Homo sapiens: one gene and its partners. The protein of the gene in region 3 purifies or fractionates together with the protein of the main gene of each other region. This does not show direct contact. Each region holds a gene or a part of one and is shown on either strand. Other genes may lie near its edges. The genes, in order: DIRAS1, RAB3GAP1, NCOA7 and GABPA.

The links.
Region 1: the proteins of NCOA7 (region 3) and DIRAS1 purify together in Homo sapiens (affinity purification with mass spectrometry; one large-scale study listed by BioGRID and IntAct). This does not show direct contact.
Region 2: the proteins of NCOA7 (region 3) and RAB3GAP1 fractionate together in Homo sapiens (co-fractionation; one large-scale study listed by BioGRID). This does not show direct contact.
Region 4: the proteins of NCOA7 (region 3) and GABPA fractionate together in Homo sapiens (co-fractionation; one large-scale study listed by BioGRID). This does not show direct contact.

What each region holds. Positions count from the first base shown.
Region 1 is NC_000019.10:2,716,210-2,718,534, reverse strand, and holds part of DIRAS1 (GTP-binding protein Di-Ras1), read left to right. Parts: exon of another isoform or gene 1-223; coding exon of another isoform or gene 224-256; intron 257-659; coding exon of another isoform or gene 660-728; coding exon 729-1,325; 3' UTR 1,326-2,325. UniProt on the Homo sapiens protein: Displays low GTPase activity and exists predominantly in the GTP-bound form.
Region 2 is NC_000002.12:135,132,157-135,135,828, reverse strand, and holds part of RAB3GAP1 (rab3 GTPase-activating protein catalytic subunit), read right to left. Parts: intron 2,935-3,672; coding exon 2,845-2,934; intron 1,969-2,844; coding exon 1,796-1,968; intron 565-1,795; coding exon 510-564; intron 266-509; coding exon 1-265. UniProt on the Homo sapiens protein: Catalytic subunit of the Rab3 GTPase-activating (Rab3GAP) complex composed of RAB3GAP1 and RAB3GAP2, which has GTPase-activating protein (GAP) activity towards various Rab3 subfamily members (RAB3A, RAB3B, RAB3C and RAB3D), RAB5A and RAB43, and guanine nucleotide exchange factor (GEF) activity towards RAB18.
Region 3 is NC_000006.12:125,877,930-125,881,601, reverse strand, and holds part of NCOA7 (nuclear receptor coactivator 7), read right to left. Parts: intron 3,340-3,672; coding exon 3,232-3,339; intron 513-3,231; coding exon 399-512; intron 1-398. UniProt on the Homo sapiens protein: Enhances the transcriptional activities of several nuclear receptors. Involved in the coactivation of different nuclear receptors, such as ESR1, THRB, PPARG and RARA.
Region 4 is NC_000021.9:25,751,849-25,755,520, reverse strand, and holds part of GABPA (GA-binding protein alpha chain), read right to left. Parts: intron 3,533-3,672; coding exon 3,287-3,532; intron 1-3,286.

The DNA of each region.
Region 1 (2,325 bases), on a different chromosome or scaffold from region 3:
TAAATAAATAAGAAGAATAAAATAAAATACGAGTTCCCAGGGCCGTTGCCCTGGCCGACCGATTCATCACACCTAGGGCTGCGGCCCTGACATATGCATCTTAAACACCCGACCATGTGCGGCTTCCATGAGGATTGGCCATCTCTGGGTTGGCGGAAGAGCAGGGGACCCATGGTTGTTGGAGACGGGCACCGTTTGAGCCACCAAACAGGCTCAGGGTGGCATGATGGCTCGGCAAGGTCTCAGAGCCAGGCAGGTGTGGAGCGAGAGGTGGAAGCCAGGCCTGCTAGCTTCCAGGGGCCCCTGCCACACTGGGAAGAGAGGGGGAAGCTGGCACAGCCTGGAAGGGACACCCACACCCGGGGAAGGAGTTTCGTGGGCATCCCGGCGTCTCCCACGCCTCTCCTAGCTCAGCGTCCCCCGGGGAAGCTCAGGCCCCAGATTTTGTTAGGGAGAAGTAAGCAAAGGGTGTTGGCTGTGCGCCCGCCTGTGGGACAGAACTGCAAAGTCAGCCACAAGCAAATGGGCCTTTTCAGGAGGCAGGAGGCACGGCAGCCACCTCCTCTGAGAAGCCGCCATGTCCTCCTCCCTCCCCGGGGCGTGGGGCTGTCCCCTCAAGCCTGGGTGGCCTTTGACGTGTGACCCTCCTCTCTGCACAGGCTCGGTCTGGGGTTCTTGCAGCTGGCACCAGCCCTCCCGGCCCCGGCCGCCCACCCGCCGCGGGGAAGATGCCGGAACAGAGTAACGATTACCGCGTGGTGGTGTTCGGGGCGGGCGGCGTGGGCAAGAGCTCGCTGGTGCTGCGCTTCGTGAAGGGCACGTTCCGCGACACCTACATCCCCACCATCGAGGACACCTACCGGCAGGTGATCAGCTGCGACAAGAGCGTGTGCACGCTGCAGATCACAGACACCACCGGCAGCCACCAGTTCCCGGCCATGCAGCGCCTGTCCATCTCCAAGGGCCACGCCTTCATCCTGGTGTTCTCCGTCACCAGCAAGCAGTCGCTGGAGGAGCTGGGGCCCATCTACAAGCTCATCGTGCAGATCAAGGGCAGCGTGGAGGACATCCCCGTGATGCTCGTGGGCAACAAGTGCGATGAGACGCAGCGGGAGGTGGACACGCGCGAGGCGCAGGCGGTGGCCCAGGAGTGGAAGTGCGCTTTCATGGAGACCTCGGCCAAGATGAACTACAACGTCAAGGAGCTCTTCCAGGAGCTGCTGACGCTGGAGACGCGCCGGAACATGAGCCTCAACATCGACGGCAAGCGCTCCGGGAAGCAGAAGAGGACAGACCGCGTCAAGGGCAAATGCACCCTCATGTGAGCCCGGAACGCCCGCCTGCCCGCCGCCCACCCCCACTGACCCCCGCTGCCTCCCCCAACACCGACACCCTCCTCGGCCTCCTCCTCTTCTCTCATCCTTCCTCCGACACCTCGGCTGGGGAAACCGAGGCCACCGCCCCCCCCTCCGCTGCCCCTGCCCACCCCGAGGCAGGGCTGGGGCTTTTCTTCCTCCCCTGCTCTCTCTCCACCCTCCTGTTCTGTCTGTACCCTCCAAAACCAAGAGCCGGAGGTGGCCCCCTTGTCCTGCAGATGGGAAAACAGGATGGGGAGCTGGCAAGAGGAGCTGCTTGTTCCCACCAGGACCAGAGGAGGCTGCGTTTCCCCGTTTCCATCTCTTTCCCTGGGGTGTCCCCAGCCAGACCTGCGCGTCCTGTCCCTCACATTTGATCACTGTGACCTTCTGGGGGAGGGGGGAGTTGAAAATGCACATCGGCCTCAGATATTTTTTTCTTTTTTCTCCTATTTGGTGTTAACATACACCCAAGCCCACCCGGCCCGTCGTGACCTCTGATCTGTGCCCACTCCTCCGGTTCCAGACGCACCTCTCTCCTCTGTCTTCACAGTGGGGTGTGGGGCCCGTGGGATGGGCCTCAGGCCACCAGGCAATAACCACAGGGCCTGCAGCAGTGCCCCTGCCAGCCCCGAATCCCACCCCCGGGACCAGCCACATCCACAGCACAACTGCCCCGCTGGAGAGGCACCATGGGCGTGGAGGGGCTTCCCGGACACCGCCCACCCGGGACCCGCCTCTTCCACCAAGACAGAGACGTTAGCAACGCATGGCGGGTGGGGACCTGGGGTGCTCAGGAGGGGGTACCCGGGGCCCCGGCCAGAGATACATCAATTACACCCCCGTGGGGGGACAGCCGATGGGAGCCAGCACCAGCAGGATCCGAGGGCGCCCCGGACAGAGGTCTGCCCCACCCACTTCCTCCCCACCACCTGTGCCCCAGAGAGCAGGGCCTGCCCGGGAAGGTGGC
Region 2 (3,672 bases), on a different chromosome or scaffold from region 3:
CTCCTTTCTTGCCACTCTCTTGTCCATTTCCTTTAAGTTCTTCAGTATCACTTAGGCATTCAAAAAATTCTTCTTCGCTGTCACTCCAGGAATCCCAAGATTTTCCTACCTCTCCCTTTTCCTTATCTGTTTCTTTTAGATTATCTGGCACCAACTGGTCTCCTGCTTTTCCAGCATCCCCTGGATATATATTAGTGACATCTGAAGCACTTGTCTTTTTCCCCTCATCACGTGCCTTCTTTCTTTCAATACAACAATTTAACATCTTAAGAAAAGAGAAATAACATTTATAGTTGAATTAGTTACAGAAAAATAAAAATCTACCTACTGCTTGAATATTTAATTTTCACTCTCCACTTCTCAGGACCTTGTGAATTGCAGTGACTACTGACTATAGGCAACCTACAGCAGCACCATGAGAACAGCATGTAACCCATTATTACATTTAGTATTAGAATAATCTGATTAAATCAAGACCACATTTATCCATGTCATTGAGAAATCTTTACCTGTAGTTTCTGATGCAGTAAACAACACCTCAGATCTGGGGGTCCACTTGCTAATCTATCAAATAAAGTAAGGAGAAAAGAAAGCTTAGTTTTAGTAAAATTGCTTCAGATATGATTATTTTCTATACTACCATAATTTTTAGCTATATTGATAAGAAATCAAAACTAGATTTCCACAGGTAAGGTAAGTGAATTCCAGAGGGGGAGCACATAGAATTAAAAGATGAAAATTTATTTTATACTCCTTGTCCACAAATCACCAATAGCAAATATAATAGATATTTCAAAACATAACAGCAAATTAGTGATAGTTTTCAGGCTAACAAAAACTCAAAATGAGAAAAAGCCCCTGAACCCACTCCAGGAAGTACTAGCATACAGTATTTCACACCATACAAAATAAATCAGTTTGTGTATTCAGTACTAAATTCTTACAGTGGATTCTCACTATAAAAACCAAGATCTCCACCTGTATTTCAATAGGACCTTGGACTGTCTCTAGTTCTAGGTTCCTCTAGACTACTAGGTTCCCAGCAATCAGCCAGAGGCACTCCCTCATATTCAACATGCTTCTGGGTCTGTAAAATGTTCCAGAGCGGACTGTCTAAAACCAAGAGAGAATCCAGCTAAGCAGAGATTGGCAAATGATATAAATGTTTTTGGATCAGTAATCATTTTATATTGCTCAAAATCATGATTCTCCTATCATAGCATGGGTAGATGAGCACTAAACTATGCAATATCAACCTATGTGCTAATGAAAATGTTCTGTTTGATTAAGTAAAATGTCAATTACAAAAAACAGGTTTATTACAAAAGACTTTGAAAATGCATAAAAGTATAAAGAACAAAATAAAAGTATAATTTCACACTGGGAAAAACTGATAGCATTTCACAGTATTTATAATATTTTTCCTGTACAAATATAGCAACATAATTAAAAGTACTTTGTATATGCATTAAAATATTCTACTTTATTAGAAACAATATGAACATCTGTTATTAAAGATTATTGGGGGAAAAACTGTAATCAATCTAATTTTCTATTGTAGAGATACAGTATAATTTATTTAACTATTCTTTTATGTTTGATATTTAGGTTTTGCCTTTTTTTCTATTATATTAATAAATTTGCTGCAGTGAACACCTCTGAACATAAATCATGTCTAAGCTTCTTGCCACTTTCTTAGGGCAGACTTCCTAGAAGGGGGAAAAAATAGGTCAAAAGTCAAATGTCTGCTAACAAACAAAATCGTATCCAAACAATTGAAAATTGAAATTATTACCCTGGAATCAGAAAGTTGTTTTCCCATCGGAAACGCATTTCAAGAACAAATTCCTGCCAGAGGTGTGCCACTCCTTTCAACCCTCCATGGTAAAAATTGATCATACAGAGACACAAAGCCAGTTTGTATGTTAAACTGTCAGATGGTGCAGACTTGAACTGATTGTAGAGATTCTAAATTTAACAAAATAGAAACAAAGCAAACTTGTTACCAAAATATTTTACACATATAACTGAAAAGGTCGTAGGGAGAGATTTTAATTGTAAAATTAACCTATCCCACCTAAACTAGGCATTATCAAATGTCTAATACACTACTGCATAAACTATTCTTAGGAAGTCCCACATTTTCAAGATTTCTACTAAGATTAAAAAAGATAAAGCTATAGTTTAATGAAGCTAAAGTTACAGCTTTCAATTTCTTCTGTGGAATATTTAGGAAGTATTCCAAATTTCATGTGTTGTTTTAAAAATCTTTTAATTACAAAAATGAGCACGTCTGAAAAAACAAAAATCATAACTATCTAAACTGAAAATGTAAAAAGCCTTTGCTTTTTTCTCTCACCTCATCAAATCTACTTCTCAACAATAACTACTGTAAAGGTTGATATATATCTACACTTGTCATTTAAATTCTTCAACTTCTTAATTTTTCAAAGACTAGACAAAGAGACCATGAAAATTTTACCTAATTTTACACATTTTACTTCATTAAAGAGTTGTCCATTCACTAACTAGTTTTAAAATATCAAAAAGAATCTGCTGAGAAACACAAATTTAATGATTTCACCAAAACTCTACAATGAGGGAAATCCTACAGCTGTGTAGAGTATATTTGTGCTATTTTTTCATTGTTTCCAGAAAAATTCTTGCTACCCAAAATATGTATCTGTGCTAGTTATCTAAGTGGAAACCACGATCTGCCATCCAAAATTCCCAAGGTGATTTTTAAAATAAAAATATAGTAAGCTATTAAACTAGAAATATATAGAACCTCTAGAAATTCAGTGCATTTAAAACATTTTAACATTGAACTCCACATCAACTTACATAGTCTTCACTCTCTGATGGAGGATTATTATTATCTGTTGAAGTAGTTCCATCTAATGGTTTCTCAGAAACAGCATCAGGGAATAAGAACTTGAAGGAAAGGAAAAAAATAATCACATTTTAGACCACATTTCCTATTTTGTTGATTTTTATAACTCATATAGACATTATTTAACTTTTTAATGGTTTTGCTGCTCTAACAATAGAAATGTTCCAGTTGTATTGGCCAGTTTGTTCTACACTCTCAAATTTTTTCTATTTTTCTTTGAAAATATACAAGGTTTCAGTGACTAGCCAATTTTAGAAATTAGAATTTTTTTCTTAAAAGTAATCACTTGATTCTGTAAGCTGAAAGGTGCAAAAGCAAAATCTCATCACTGTGACTTCATGCTCACCCAAGGCCATTACATTTTTTTAGTGTTACTACTATCTAAAAAACAAAACCACAAAAGACAATTTAAAAACACTCATGTACTCATGAGGATCTGAAGAGTTACATCATCCACAGGCTTTCATATATAGACTACTAAGAGATGATATTCAAGACCCACAGCTTTATTTTATGATACCCCTGGAAAGTAGGAAGCAGTCTAAACCTATAATAACCAATGTACCTTTTCCATGTGGTTTCTGTTTATATGTACATGTACGAGTGGTCAAAAAAAAATCCAGTGTACATGACAACTGAGCTACATGATTTGAATAACATTCTTTTAAGAATACAGTCTTAAGAAGGAGGCTCTCTATAGACATTTATTTACAGTCCTTTTATCACTGTTCCTCTCAATTGTTTTGTGGTACTGCTGATTAGTAATCCCTCTTACTATG
Region 3 (3,672 bases):
CCTCCCAGGCTCAAGTGATCCTCCCACCACAGCCTCCTGAGTAGGTGGGACTACAGGTTTGAGCCACCATGTCTGGCTAATTTTTAAAATATTTCGTAGAGACAGAATCTCACTATATTGCCCAGGCTGGTCTCAAACTCCTGGGCTCAGGCAATCCTTCTGCCTCGGCCTCCCAGAGTGCTGGGACTACAGGCTGAGCCACTGTGTCTGGCCATTTTTGCCTTTGAAACCTTAAATGTGAATAAGTTTCCCTTGGAGAGGATGCATTCTCCAATTACCTAATCTCAACCATCTAGGGAGAATTTCAGATGTAATCTTGTGAAAAATAACATGTTGAATTCTACAACTTAAAAGAAGTCTCTTTAATAAAAATGAACTTCAGTGCATAATATACATACAGGCAATTTATCATATTCTGCATCTGATGATGAAGGAGAGACAGTAGCACCAGGACTGGATGATGATAGCCTTAAGGTACTGGAAGGAGAGTTGGCATCTGGCACAAAAAGGACCTGAGAATGGGAGAGAACAGATGGGTGAGTACCAGCAACCAGGCAAACCACTAGTGAGTGTTTGGAGAAGTTATTCTCTACACAGTATCATGTTCAGTGCATGATTACGACCTAGGTTGCTTTCAAGAAACTCATAAGCAACTTACGGTTTTCTAGACTAATCCATGAAATGATACTCAGCATATGAATGTGTGTAGTACAAAGGGTACAGAACATGCCTGTAGACACTGCAAGAACTCAAAAAGAAAGGGAGAGCAAGGCCAGGCACAGTGGCTCATGCCTGTAATCCCAGCACTTTGGGAGACCAAGGTGGGCAGATCACCTGAGGTCAAGAGTTTGAGACCAGCCTGGCCAACATGGTGAAACCTTGTCTTTACTAAAAATACAAAAAAATTTAGCTGGGCATGGTGGCTCGCACCTGTAGTCCCAGATACTCGGGGAGGCTGAGGCAGGAGAATCTCTTGAACCCAGGAGGCAGAGGTTGCAGTGAGCCAAGATCGTGCCACTGCACTCCAGCCTGGGTGACAGAGGGAGACTCCACCTCAAAAAATAAAATAAAATAAAATAAAATATAAATAAATAAATAAATAAAAAGAAAAGAGAGAGCAAGGTGGGTAAGTATTCTGGGCAGGCCAAGTGAAGCAAGTGGGTCCAACTGAAGCCTTGAAGAACAAGTAGAAATTGGATAGGAGAGAGGGAAGAGCCCTCCAAGGTGGGAGACTAATAGTATAAGGGAAATGAGGAGAGAGAAGCATGGCTTCTAAACTTAATATCTGTGCCAGGTAGAAATGGAACAAACCCAGCTTGCTAACTCCAAGCAGGCTCTGAGTTCTAAAGCAGTAGGTCCTTATATGATAAATTGTATAAGGTAATATCAATAAAATAATCCCAATATTTTCTCTTCCAACAGTGTCTGGGTTATGTGTAACTAAAAACTACCCCCACCCCAAAAAATTATACAGAATAGCAACCTCTGCAAAACATTCTGGTTCTCAAAACATTACTACAATCCTGTCATTCAATATTCTTTTAATGAGACATGCTACATTGTGGCATGTATCAAATATAATCTTTTGTCTTTTTCTGAGATGGAGTTTCACTCTTGTCACCCAGGCTGGAGTGCAGTGGCATAATCTCAGCTCACTGCAACCTCCACCTCCCACATTCAAGAGATTCTCCTGCCTCAGCCTCCCAAGTAGCTGGGATTATAGGAACCCACCACCAAGCCTGGCTACTGGCTAATTTTTGTATTTTTAGTAGAGATGGGGTTTCACCATGTTGGTCAGGCTGTCCTTGAAGTCCTGACCTCAAGTGATCTGCCTACCTTGGCCTCCAAAGTGCTGGAATTACAAGGATGAGCCACTGTGCCCGGCCAAATATAATCTTAAAATGATGACCTTTAATGTTATAAAACAGAATTCAGAGCTAATCATATAACAACTGATTACTGATCAATATTGTTATTCACTGTCTCCTATCTTTCCAGTCATTTAAACCTCACTTCAATCCAGAAAATATTTGAGACAACAATAAAAAAACACATTAAAATAAAAGTGGGAAAATCAAAGTCAAGGGGGGATATAAGATGAGGACTGATAACTACTAAAAATATATGCACCAAAACTGGTAACCACTCATTAAGAAGTGGGCCATAAAAGTGACTCTGAGTTTCCATATAATTAATGCAAAGAGACAACATCATTAGTTAGCAGAATTCAACTTCCATGAGATAAAAATGAAGTTTCTCAGAAGTACAAGTACTCTCCTACAGAATCTCATACAAAGGAGCATCCTAGACTGAATTATTTGTCCTCTATGATGCACTAACAGTAAATACAATAACCAGTTTTGGAGTATTGCCTTTTATAGCATCTTCAATATGGGTCAATGGAAATGCCAAAGTTTAGAGTTCTGTAAAAAGCAATTTACAAAGGACTAAAATTTTGTGATCTTGGTATATAGCTCTTATTTATCTTATATAGCTAAACTAGAGTAATGGATGGATGATGTTTTTCCCAAGCAATTCTCCACTAATAGTAAATTTTTTTTGCATCTGAACTCTTAAAAAAAGTATTAGGTAACATAGATTGCGATTCAATTGTCTGAACATTCCAAATGTCAAATCTAAGGAGTAATTCCTGTGCTTAAACAGTTGACTGCACTGTAAAGAGAGGTGAGCAGCCGCCAGAACATGTGCTACCTCAACATGGAAGTGAGCCTGGATCATGGGCAGGGGTGAAAGTTTCCTATTGCCTTCAGAAAATAATTTTGGGTTTGCTCCCAACACATATGCCAATCAGGATTTGAGGTCTTAAAGTTCTTAACCATACAGCAATGCTGTCATTTCAGCCTGGAAAAAAATTTTAAGCATGTGTAGCCAAGGTATCCTGTGAATATGAAAATATCGTAAAGTTGAGCTGGGTGCAGTGGCTCATGTCTGTAATCCCAGCTACTTGGGAGGCTGAGGTGGGAGGATTGCTTGAGCCCAGGGGATTGAGGCTGCAGTGAGCCATGATGGTGTCACTGCACTCCAGCCTGGGCAACAGAGCAAGACCCTGTCTCAAAAAATAAATAAATAAAAATAAAGGAGAGAAAATATTGAACCAAAGCACATTATCATTTATCATAATCCTGTGACAAACAATAGTGAGGCACTGAAAACGGCAATAAAAGATAAATGCAGAATTTCTAGAGTTATATCCAGTAAGAGTATAATTACCTGGCCTGGAACAATAGTATGTGTGAAAAGTTTATTCAGTTCCACCAATTTATTGGGAGTGATGTTAAATTTCAGTGCTATGGAGTTTAGGGTGTCCTGGTTTCCAGCCTAGAATAATCAAACAGGTAAGAGTCAATAAATAAAGCAAAAAAAATTACTTTTGATAGATACTATTAATTTATCTGCAATATGAATAAATAACAAACTAATAGTTCCATCAAGATAGACTATAAGAAAGAATGAATACATTGTCAATTCTTAATAAAATCATTTTACAGCAAAGTCTTAAATGCAATTCATTTCTGGGCTTCCTCATTTTCAAATTTCACTGTCCCCTAATAGATTTCTAATTTTACTTTGGTGCAACTGAGGCGCATGAAGTAAAGGTCCGTGAGCTGTAATGAAGACTACAACAAGAAAAGAAATACGATGTACACAGAG
Region 4 (3,672 bases), on a different chromosome or scaffold from region 3:
TACTGCTGACAGGTATCTGCAAAAAGATCTATAAATATTGACACGTTTGAAACTCTTTTCTTTGCCCTTTTTTTTTTTTTTTTTTTTTAGACAGTCTTGCTTTGCCACCCAGGCTGGAGTATAGTGGTGCCATCAAAGCTCTCTATAGCCTCAAGCTCCAGAGCTCAAGCAATTTTCCCAGCTTAGCCTCCTAGGATATTGGTGTATGCCACCATGCCCAGCTCTTTTTTCTATTTTTTGGAGACAGTCTGGCTATATAGCCCAGGCTGGTCTCAAACTCCTGGCCTCAAGAAACCCTCTCACCTCAGCCTCCCAACGTGCTGGGATTATAGGCATGAGCCAACACACCTGGCCTGAAATTCTTTTAATGAAATAGTCAATGCCTCGTTTTATCAGCATATAGTTATCAAATCCTTCAGAACTTCGCATTAATTAGCTTTAAAGTTATTTACTCTTATTTTTTTTCTTTCGAGATGGAGTCTCACTTTGTTGCCCAGGCTGGAGTGCACTGGTGCAATTTCGGCTCACTGCAACGTCCGCCTCCCAGGTTCAAGAGATTCTTGTGCCTCAGCCTCCCAAGTAGCTGGGATTACAGGCATGTACCACCACGCCCAGCTAATTTTTGTGTTTTTAGTAGAAACAGGTTTTACCATGTTAGCCAGGCTGGTCTCAAACTCCTGGCCTCAAGTGACCCACCTGCCTCAGCCTCCCAAAGTGCTGGGATTACAGGCATGAGCCACTGTGCCTGGCCTAAAGTGATTAATTCTTAAATATGAAAAGATGGGCAAAAATAATTAGATACTTGGGAAAGGTTAAAAACAACACAAACAAAAACCACAAGAAAAACAGAATCCACAAGAAACAGATATACCACGGTAAAGCTTTTTAAAAGTTAAAAAAAAATATATAATCAATATACTCAGAGAAGTAGGAGAAAACACGATATTGGCAATATAAGATCAGAATGCTACAGAAAGGAACAAACAAAAATGAAGAGCCCTTGTAAATTAAAAATCAGATAGGTTATATTAAAAACACAAGAAAATCTGGCAGAAAGTAGTGCAGATAGGTAAGATGAAAAATAAACAAGAAAAAAGATGCAGCAGATCAACTCAAGAGATTCAACAGGAGTTCCAGCAAAAAGAACACAGGTATTTATCAAAATAATGCAGTAAGAACATCCAGAACTGAAGGCTACAATTATCAAGATCAGGGCTGTCCAACAGAAATACAATGCAGACCATTATGTAATTTTAAATTTTCTAATAGTTACATTTAAAAAGTTGGTCAAATACATCTTAATAATGAATTTATTTTAACTTAATGTTCCAAATGTTATTTCAACTGGTAATTAATATAAAAAATTAGAAAAGATTTTATACTTTTTCTTTTAATGGGTATTTTTACATTTACAACCCATCTTAATTTTGACCAGAGACACTTCAAGTGCTGACGTGTGATTAGTGGCTACAGTACTGGGCAGCGGAGGGACAGACTGAAATTCTACATTAGCTGTCTGGTTCCATAGCTCTCTTTCAGTTCCATGGGTAAGCTCTCTCATTTACTGTGTATCTTTTAGGTTTGGTTTAAAGAAAGAAAAAAAATGTCCTAGGGAAAACAGTGGTTCTACAATACAGCCTTTCTGTCATCAGCCCTGCTCCCCAGGTACAACCTTGTCTCTAAAAATAAAAAATAAAAAAAGGACAAAAACCCGACAATACTGTTTCATTTACAAATACACTCAGGTCCCCGCCAACTCTTGGAAGATCAGTATTATTTATTTGTTACCCCAGCATTCTTCCTCATCTGCCCCCATTTCTAAGATATCTATTTCTTATAATTCTGTTTTGTCTCGCCAACTCTAGTTACTTCTGTCTAAATTTAAGAATAATCCTCTGATCATCAAATTTAATAGATATCAGTCAGCATTCTTTGACTTTCTCAGCAGCATCTGAGAGTCTTGACCATCCAAACTCTCCCCTCAATTTCAGTGACACTATACATATAAGTTATTACTTTCTTTCTGTCTCTTCAGTTATTTCTTGTCTCCCTTTTCTCCAACCCTAAATGTTTACAGGGTCAAGTGTATATGCCTTTAGTTGTGTGTTCTTTTCCATTTCTCGCTTTCCATCAGGGACTACGTAGACTTTTATAGCTTCAAATATAAATTCAGTGGGAATGAGTCTCATATAACATCTTTGTCTCCAGCCCAAATCTTATATAACTGAAACCATTTTCTGGCTAACCTCCAGCTGAATATAAACTTCCACATCAAAATCAAGTGCTATCCACCTTCTCTTGAAAAAAACATTTCCTATACCAGACTTCTCTACTTCCCCAACTGGGCTTTTGAAAGCATGCTCTTCATAGTGCACCATCTTAATTAAGCCCAGCATTTAACATGGTGCCTGGTGTACGGTAGTGTTCACTAAATATGTAATGATGATGGAACCAATTTTTATCAAGATTATTACTGTTTTAGTCACCAAGATGAAGCTTGAGAAGTTAGATCAATACTTGTATCTTCCCTCTCTACCCTCATAAAATCTGTCAATCTGCTCAGTCCTATCACTGTTTTCATCCACTTTTTCCTTGCTACTCCCAAAGAAATCATCTGGAGTCTGGGCTAATGTAGACATTATCATCCAGTCACAACTATAATAATATGCTCCTGTTTTCCCTTCACTTAGTCTCTACCTGTTCCAACTTATGCCATATATTGCCACCATATTCATTTTTCAATTATCATTTTCATCAATCAAAAACAGTTCTGTAATGCTACAGAGTAACTCCTTAACCACTCCATTTTCTCACTACTCATGCATACCCCCAGGTCTAAGCTTTGCACATAACATTTCCTGTCTTAAATGTCTTTCTCTGCCCAATGGTATCTTATTTATAATAAACTCTTTTCAGCTTTCCCTCAGGGCAACTATGATCTCTTTGAGATTCCAATAGCATACTTCTACAAGAGTTACTGGCAGTTTAAAAACATGTTACCTTTTATGGCAATCATCTCTTTTCATCTATCTTCTCTCTCTTCAACTACACTCTCAACACCCTAAGAGCAGAAATTTTTTAGACTTCTTTGTATTTCCTGCACGCAGGACAGAATTTGTCCACCACATGAGCTTAAATGTGCGTTACAATTAAAAGAGAGATACAGAAAATCAACATTCATCCTAATAACTCTACATGTAAAATAGATTATAACTTACCCTAGTGTCTTCTATGTCAAGCTTAATTCCTATTATTCTACCCAATATAGAATTATGCATTTTATTACCATAGGGTATCCCAAGGCGTTCTTGTTCTTTCCTATAGCCTTCCAGTGCAGCAGCCCATCTTGTCACTTGTTCTGAAGTTTCATCTGAAATGGTTGTGATGTGTTTTGTGCCATCAAGAGTTATCACTTGAGCTTCTTCAACAAGATGTGCTTCTGATTCAGCATGGTGGGCATCTGGATCAATAACAACCTCAACAGTGTCCGCAGGTTTAACAATTTCAAGGATGTTTAACTTTGGTTCAATTCCTGAACAGTGGATAAAAAAAAATTGTAAATCTAAATGAAAACGCAGAAGTCACCAAAAAATAATTTAGTTTATATGTTCCCAAATGGTAGAGAAAAACTACATCGAATAAAGCAAATGTAGTAAAAGTTAACATTTGGGG